Linked DNA regions of Homo sapiens: region 1 is linked to region 2. The links come from fine-mapping of genetic effects on gene expression. A gene starts in region 2. The other region holds a variant in brackets. All regions are shown on one strand. Distances are from middle to middle.

Region 1 (2,908 bases), 30 kb after region 2:
AGTGTCTAGCATTAGATAATGCCATAGCAACTAGGCAATCAGCAATTTGATTTCCTGCAGTCAAAGGTCCTGGAAGAGGTGTATGACCTCTAATACGAGTTATGTAAAAAGGGTGCATTCTACTCTTAACTGCTGTTTGCAATTGGGTAAATAAAGTCATCAGTTGTTTATCTGCATGAAATTGTAACTGAACATTTTCAATTAATTGTGTGGAATGAACCACGTATGAAGAATCAGAAATTACATTGACAGGCATCTCAAAACCGTCAGCACCTCAATTACAACTACAAGCTCTGCTTTTTGAGCTGAAGTATAGGGCGTCTGGAAAACTTTACTTTTTGATCCAGAGTTAGAAGCTTCACCATTACTAGACCCATCTGTAAAAACATTTTCCGCACCTTCAATTCGTTTAAATTTAGTTATTCTAGGGAGAATCCAATTAGTTAATTTCAAAAATTGAAATAATTTTGTCTTTGGAAAGTGATTATCAAGAACACCTATGAAATCAGCTAAATGGGTTTGCAATTAAGACTATTTATAAAGGCTTTTTGTATTTGTGCCTTTGTAAGGGGAACAAAAATTTTTCCAGGATCATATCCTTGTAATTTAACAATTTGAGTTCTCCCATTTCCTATCAGAGTAGCAATTTGATCCAAATAAGGAGTTAGAGTCCATGGATTAGTATGTGGAAGAAAAAGCCATTCTACAAGATCTTGCTCTTGAACAACAACACCAGTAGGTGAATGCTGAGTTGGAAAAATCAATCTTTTCTGGATCTTTTCTGGATCTATTCTATTTATTTGAGCTTTATGCACTTGCTTTTCAATCAGCTGTAACTCTGCCTCAGCCTCCTTTGTTAATTGCCAAGGGTTTGTGAGACTGGGATCTCCTCTAAGGATAGAAAAGAGATTACTCATGGCAGAGGTAGGAATGCCTAGAGCAGGTCATATCCAATTAATGTTTTCCAGTAATTTTTGAAAGTCATTCAATGTTTTCAATTGATCCCTATGTATGGTTACTTTCTGTGGCACAATGGTAGTGTCATTTACTAAGGTCCCCAAGTAGGAGTAAGGAGTAGTAGTCTGAATTTTGTCAGGAGCTATAATTAAATCAGCATGAGAAATCGAGTTTTGCAAGTGATTATAACATTGGAGTAATATTTCCTGAGTGGGGGCAGCACAAAGTATATCATCCATATAATGAATAATGTAACACTGTGAAAATTTTTTACGAGTAGGTTCAATTGCTTGTCCTACATAAGTCTGACAAATCATTGGACTGTTTAACATGCCTTGTGGCAACACTTTCCAATGAAAACGCTAAGCAGGCTGCAGGTTGTTTACCACAGGAATTGTAAATGCAAACCATTCACAGTCTTGCTCAGCTAAGGGGATAATAAAGAAACAGTCTTTTAAATCTATGACTATTAAAGGCCAATTTTTTGGAATCATAGCAGCAGAAGGCAGTCCAGGCTGCAATGCTCCCATAGGTTGTCTAACCGAATTAATGGCTCTAAGATCTGTCAACATTCTCCATTTATCACATTTTTTCTTAACAAAGACTGGAGGGCTGGGCATGGTGGCTCACACCTGTAATCCCAGCACTTTGGGAGGCCAAGGTGGGTGGATCACAAGGTCAGGAGATCGAGACCATCCTGGCTAATGCAGTGAAACCCCGTCTCCACTAAAAATACAAAAAATTAGCCGGGCGTGGTGGTGGGCGCCTATAGTCCCAGCTACTC[G/A]GGAGGCTGAGGCAGGAGAATGGCATGAACCCAGGAGGCGGAGCTTGCAGTGAGCCAAGATCGCACCACTGCACTCCAGCCTGGGCAGCAGAGCGAGACTCCATCTTAAGAAAAATAATAATAATAATAACAAAGAGTGGAGAATTCCAGGGGGGAAACGTTAGAGCTATATGTCCTTTTTCTAATTGTTCAGTAACTAAGACCTCTAAAGCCTCCAGTTCTTCTTTACTCAGCAACCATTGTTCTATCCAAATTGGCTTACTTGTTAACCATTTTAAAGGTATAGGTTCCGGAGGCTTAACAATGGCCGCCATCAAAAATGATACCCTAAACCCTGACAAGAATTTTTTCCTTCCGCTTGAACTGGTTTTTTTAACCCTTGTAAATTTTTTTCTAATCCCATGCCAGGCACATACCCCATCTCTTGTATCACATGCTGACTTTGAGGGCTATATAATTGTTCTATGTAATGGGGAACTTGTGCTCCCCATTGCTGTAATAAATCTCTCCCCCATAAATTTATAGGTACAGAAGTTACAATTGGCTGAATAGTCCCAGATTGTTCATGGGGTCCTTCACAATGCAAAATATAAATACTTTGATATACTTCAGGGGCTTTACCAACTCCAACTATGTTAAATTGAGCGGATTGAATTGGCCACACAGACGGCCAGTGCTGTAGAGAAATGATTGAAACGTCCGCTCCTGTATCTCCCAACCCTTTGAATTTCTTTCCCTGAATAGTTATTTCACAGGTAGGATGTTTATCAGTAATTTGATTTACCCAGTAAGCTGCTCTCCCTTGCTTATTTGTACTTCCAGATCCTCCTGTCTGTTTAGTTTCACTTCTCCCCATTTCCACATATGGCACAATCAGGAGTTGTGCTATACACTCTCCTGGCTCTGCTTTCCAGGGAACAGAAGTAGATATAACAATTTGAATTTCCCCACTGTAATCTGAATCAATGACTCCTGTTTGTACTTGTACTCCTTTTAAATGTAAATTAGACCTACCTAGAAGTGATCCTGCCATACCGCTGGCATCATCTGACTGGAGACAGCAACATTCTTTAACAGTCCCATTACAAAAGGAAAACCTGGTCCATGTTGATTAATAAATTGTTTAAATTCTTTAAGTATTTTAAAAGGAAAAGACTCAAATGTAGC
Region 2 (2,908 bases):
CCGCGAAGCGACCACACTCCGCATCCCGGGGCCAACGGCAGGGAAAGAGGGAGCAGGTGGGAGCCAGCACCAACAGCCCGCCGGGCCGGTAACGCGACGCAGACTGGTGGCAAGAGATGCAGGGGACTTTGGGCTGCGTGAAGCCGCCCCCTTCGCTTCGCTACACTTAGTGACTCTGAGGGACATGCAACCCTCCCCGCATGCTGCTGCTGCTGCTGCACCTACAATCCTGCCACCCCCAATGAGATCTGCCCACCCCTCTTGGCCGCCTTCCCCACGCTCAGGTTTTCCTCACTCTTTCCCTGGGTTCCACGCGCCCGCGTAGCCCGAACTCCGACCCTGAGGCTCCGCGTCCCGGCCCCCATCGCAGGGGCGCCTCTAGGAACCAGAATCCCGCAGATGACTGCACAGACAAGATCGTGCCCCCAAGTTCGGCGAGCCGGGCGCCCACCGCGCCCCCAGCCCACGCCCCCGGAGGTGAGGGCTGAATACAGGTGGTGCGGCGACGAGGCCCCGGGCCCGCCCTTTGTTGGTAAACACCGCGCGGCGCCAGAGGCCAGCCCCGCGCGCCCTCTCGGCGTCCCCGCGCCGCGCCCAGTTCTTACCGGCGCACAGCGATCCCCAGAGGAGGGCGAGGGCCACCCAGGGCGCCGTCATGTTCCGCGGCGCCGCCCCGCGCACACCCGGAGCCCGCGGGCAGGGCCGCACGGCGCTCCCGGGGCGCGCAGGGCCAGGCGGCGGCTGCGCTCTCCTTCCCGCTCCTTCCTTCGGTCTCGTTCCCTGCGCGCTTCCTGCGCCTTCGTCCCCGAGCAGCGTTCGGGCTCCAAGGGCCGGTCGGCGGGGCCGGGCTCAGGGCCGCTGCGGGCGGCGCAGGCTGCGGCCCGGGCTCCGGGGCGACGCGGGGGCCGGGGGGCGGCGGCGGGGCACGGGCCGGGGCGCGCCCGACTCAGGCATAGCGCGGCGGGGCTGGGCCCGGGCCCCGGGCGCAGGGGCCGAGTCCGGAGGGGCCATGAACGGGGGGAGGGGTGGGGGGGAGGGGAGCTGAACCGAGTCCAAAATGGCTCCTGAGCGGCGGCCACGGAGCCGAGCCAGCGGGGAAACCCGGATGTTGGATACAAAGAGGCGGGCGGGCTGGGCGGGGAGGGGGAGGGGAGGCGGGCCCTCCGGCCGCGTGGTCCGCGCCCCCCTGAGGGGCGGGGCCCCAGAGAAACAACAACACGGAGGCCCCGCCCCCATCCCGCGCCCTGTGGGAGGACGCGCGTGCACCAACTTGCTGGAGGACAGGGCGGGGCGCGCGGACGGAGGTGGCGGGAATGGGCTCCTGACCACTTTGCCCGGGAGCCTGTGGCCACTGCACTCGCAATTAGTGCCCCGCACGCTCGAGCCCAAGCTCCTGACACATGCTGCCCTACAACCCCGGAATGAGTGGATAGTCCCGGGACTCTGGCCCAGACGCCTCTGTGCCTTGGATTCCCCACCTGTGCAATGGGGGTGACAGTGAACCGTGGGAAAGTCGGATCTCTACTGATGGGCGAATTAAGTGGCAGAAAGAGGCTGACTTCCCTGAATTGACAAGCAGTCTCCCGTCTGCAATCCCTTGCCACACACTCAAAGGCACAGCTAGGGCGGGGAGTGGTCATTTAAACCCAACCAAGTGAGGGAGCGGGCAGAGTCCCGCCCCTCTAAGCCCAGCAGGTGGAAAAGGGCCTCTGGCAACCTGCTGGCCCTCCCTAATCCTATCTTGTCTTCTGCAGTTCCTGCGCCACCCACAGCGGCCCTGAGCTTCAATCTGCACTTTCAAAACTTCCCAGTTGCCTCCAGAGCCCTGCAGTTGAAGATCTTGTCTAGCACATGGTTTTGCTGTTTTCCTCACCCCGAACTCCCTCCTTGGAGGGCCATCGTTCTCTGTCTCAGATTCCACCCTCCTTATCACACAACTAGAGCTTCGGAGGAACGTGATGGGGCTCCCAACTAAGGAGGGAAAGACCATCATAGCTCAGGGATGAGGCTCCGAGATCCTCAGATAACATTAATTGTCCTCTGTCTTCTCTTGACTTGGCACATCCTTGCTTGGAGCAGGGCAGGAGCAGCTGAAAGGGAGGTGGCACCTGGAGGTCTCAGTCATTTCACTTCTCTGAGCCTCAGTTTTCCCATATGCAAAGTGAAGAGGTACACTCCCTCAGGGTTTTGCATCTTCTTAATGGCAGAAACCTAGTCAAACAAAATATTATGTAAATGTTCACTATAGGCAGGGCGAGGTGGCTCAAACCTGTAATTCCAGCACTTTTAGAGGCCCAGGAGGCTCTTGAGGTCAGGAGTTCGAGACCAGCCTGACCAACATGGCAAAAACCTGTCTCTACTAAATAATACAAAAATTAGCTGGGCATGGTGACACACACCTGTAATTCCAACTACTCGGTAGGAGGCTGAGGCAGGAGAATCGCTTGAACACAGGAGGGAGGCGGAGGTTGCAGTGAGCTGAGATTGCACCACTGCACTCCATCCTAGGTGACAGAGTGAGACTCTCTCTCAAAAAAAAAACAAGTTTATAAAGGAATGTATATTGTTCTGATTGACATTGAAATAGGGTCAACTACCCCCGGTCACCAGAGCAGCAGGAACACCTCAGGGGCCACACTTTGGAGGCACTGCCCAGAAAGATTTCTGGGTCTTTAAAAGTCCCTTCCAGTCCTGGGAAATTCTATGTGAAAATGATGGTCCCTGCTTGCTATAATCCCTACAGGTGACTTATTATCTAAGCCATTTAACACAGGATTGAATACTATGCGACTGTGTGCCAAGCAAGAAGCAGTGTTGTATGGGACACCCTAGCTGTGTATAAGGTATCTGGTAATAACACAGGAGGCCACAGTGATAGACTGTGATAACGGAAGTAATTCCATATCCA

The links. PIP is the estimated chance that this variant, and not a neighbour inherited with it, causes the effect.
Region 1: its variant is fine-mapped to the expression of ACVR2B in whole blood (TOPMed, PIP 0.93).

The regions. Positions count from the first base shown.
Region 1 is chr3:38,422,031-38,424,938 of GRCh38, reverse strand. It overlaps a transcript of XYLB not described here. Among named protein-coding and RNA genes, the nearest start is that of ACVR2B, 30 kb to the left of the region's middle. The variant G/A (reference allele first, on the strand shown) is at 1,742.
Region 2 is chr3:38,452,072-38,454,979 of GRCh38, reverse strand. ACVR2B (activin A receptor type 2B) reads right to left here and starts at 1,090. Exons shown (of 11, transcript NM_001106.4): 1 at 606-1,090. The coding sequence starts at 657. ACVR2B-AS1 (ACVR2B antisense RNA 1) reads left to right here and starts at 160. Exons shown (of 2, transcript NR_028389.1): 1 at 160-477; 2 at 1,755-2,908. It also overlaps a transcript of XYLB not described here. RefSeq lists enhancers at 1-404, 1,009-1,508 and silencers at 411-690, 1,111-1,230, 1,241-1,290.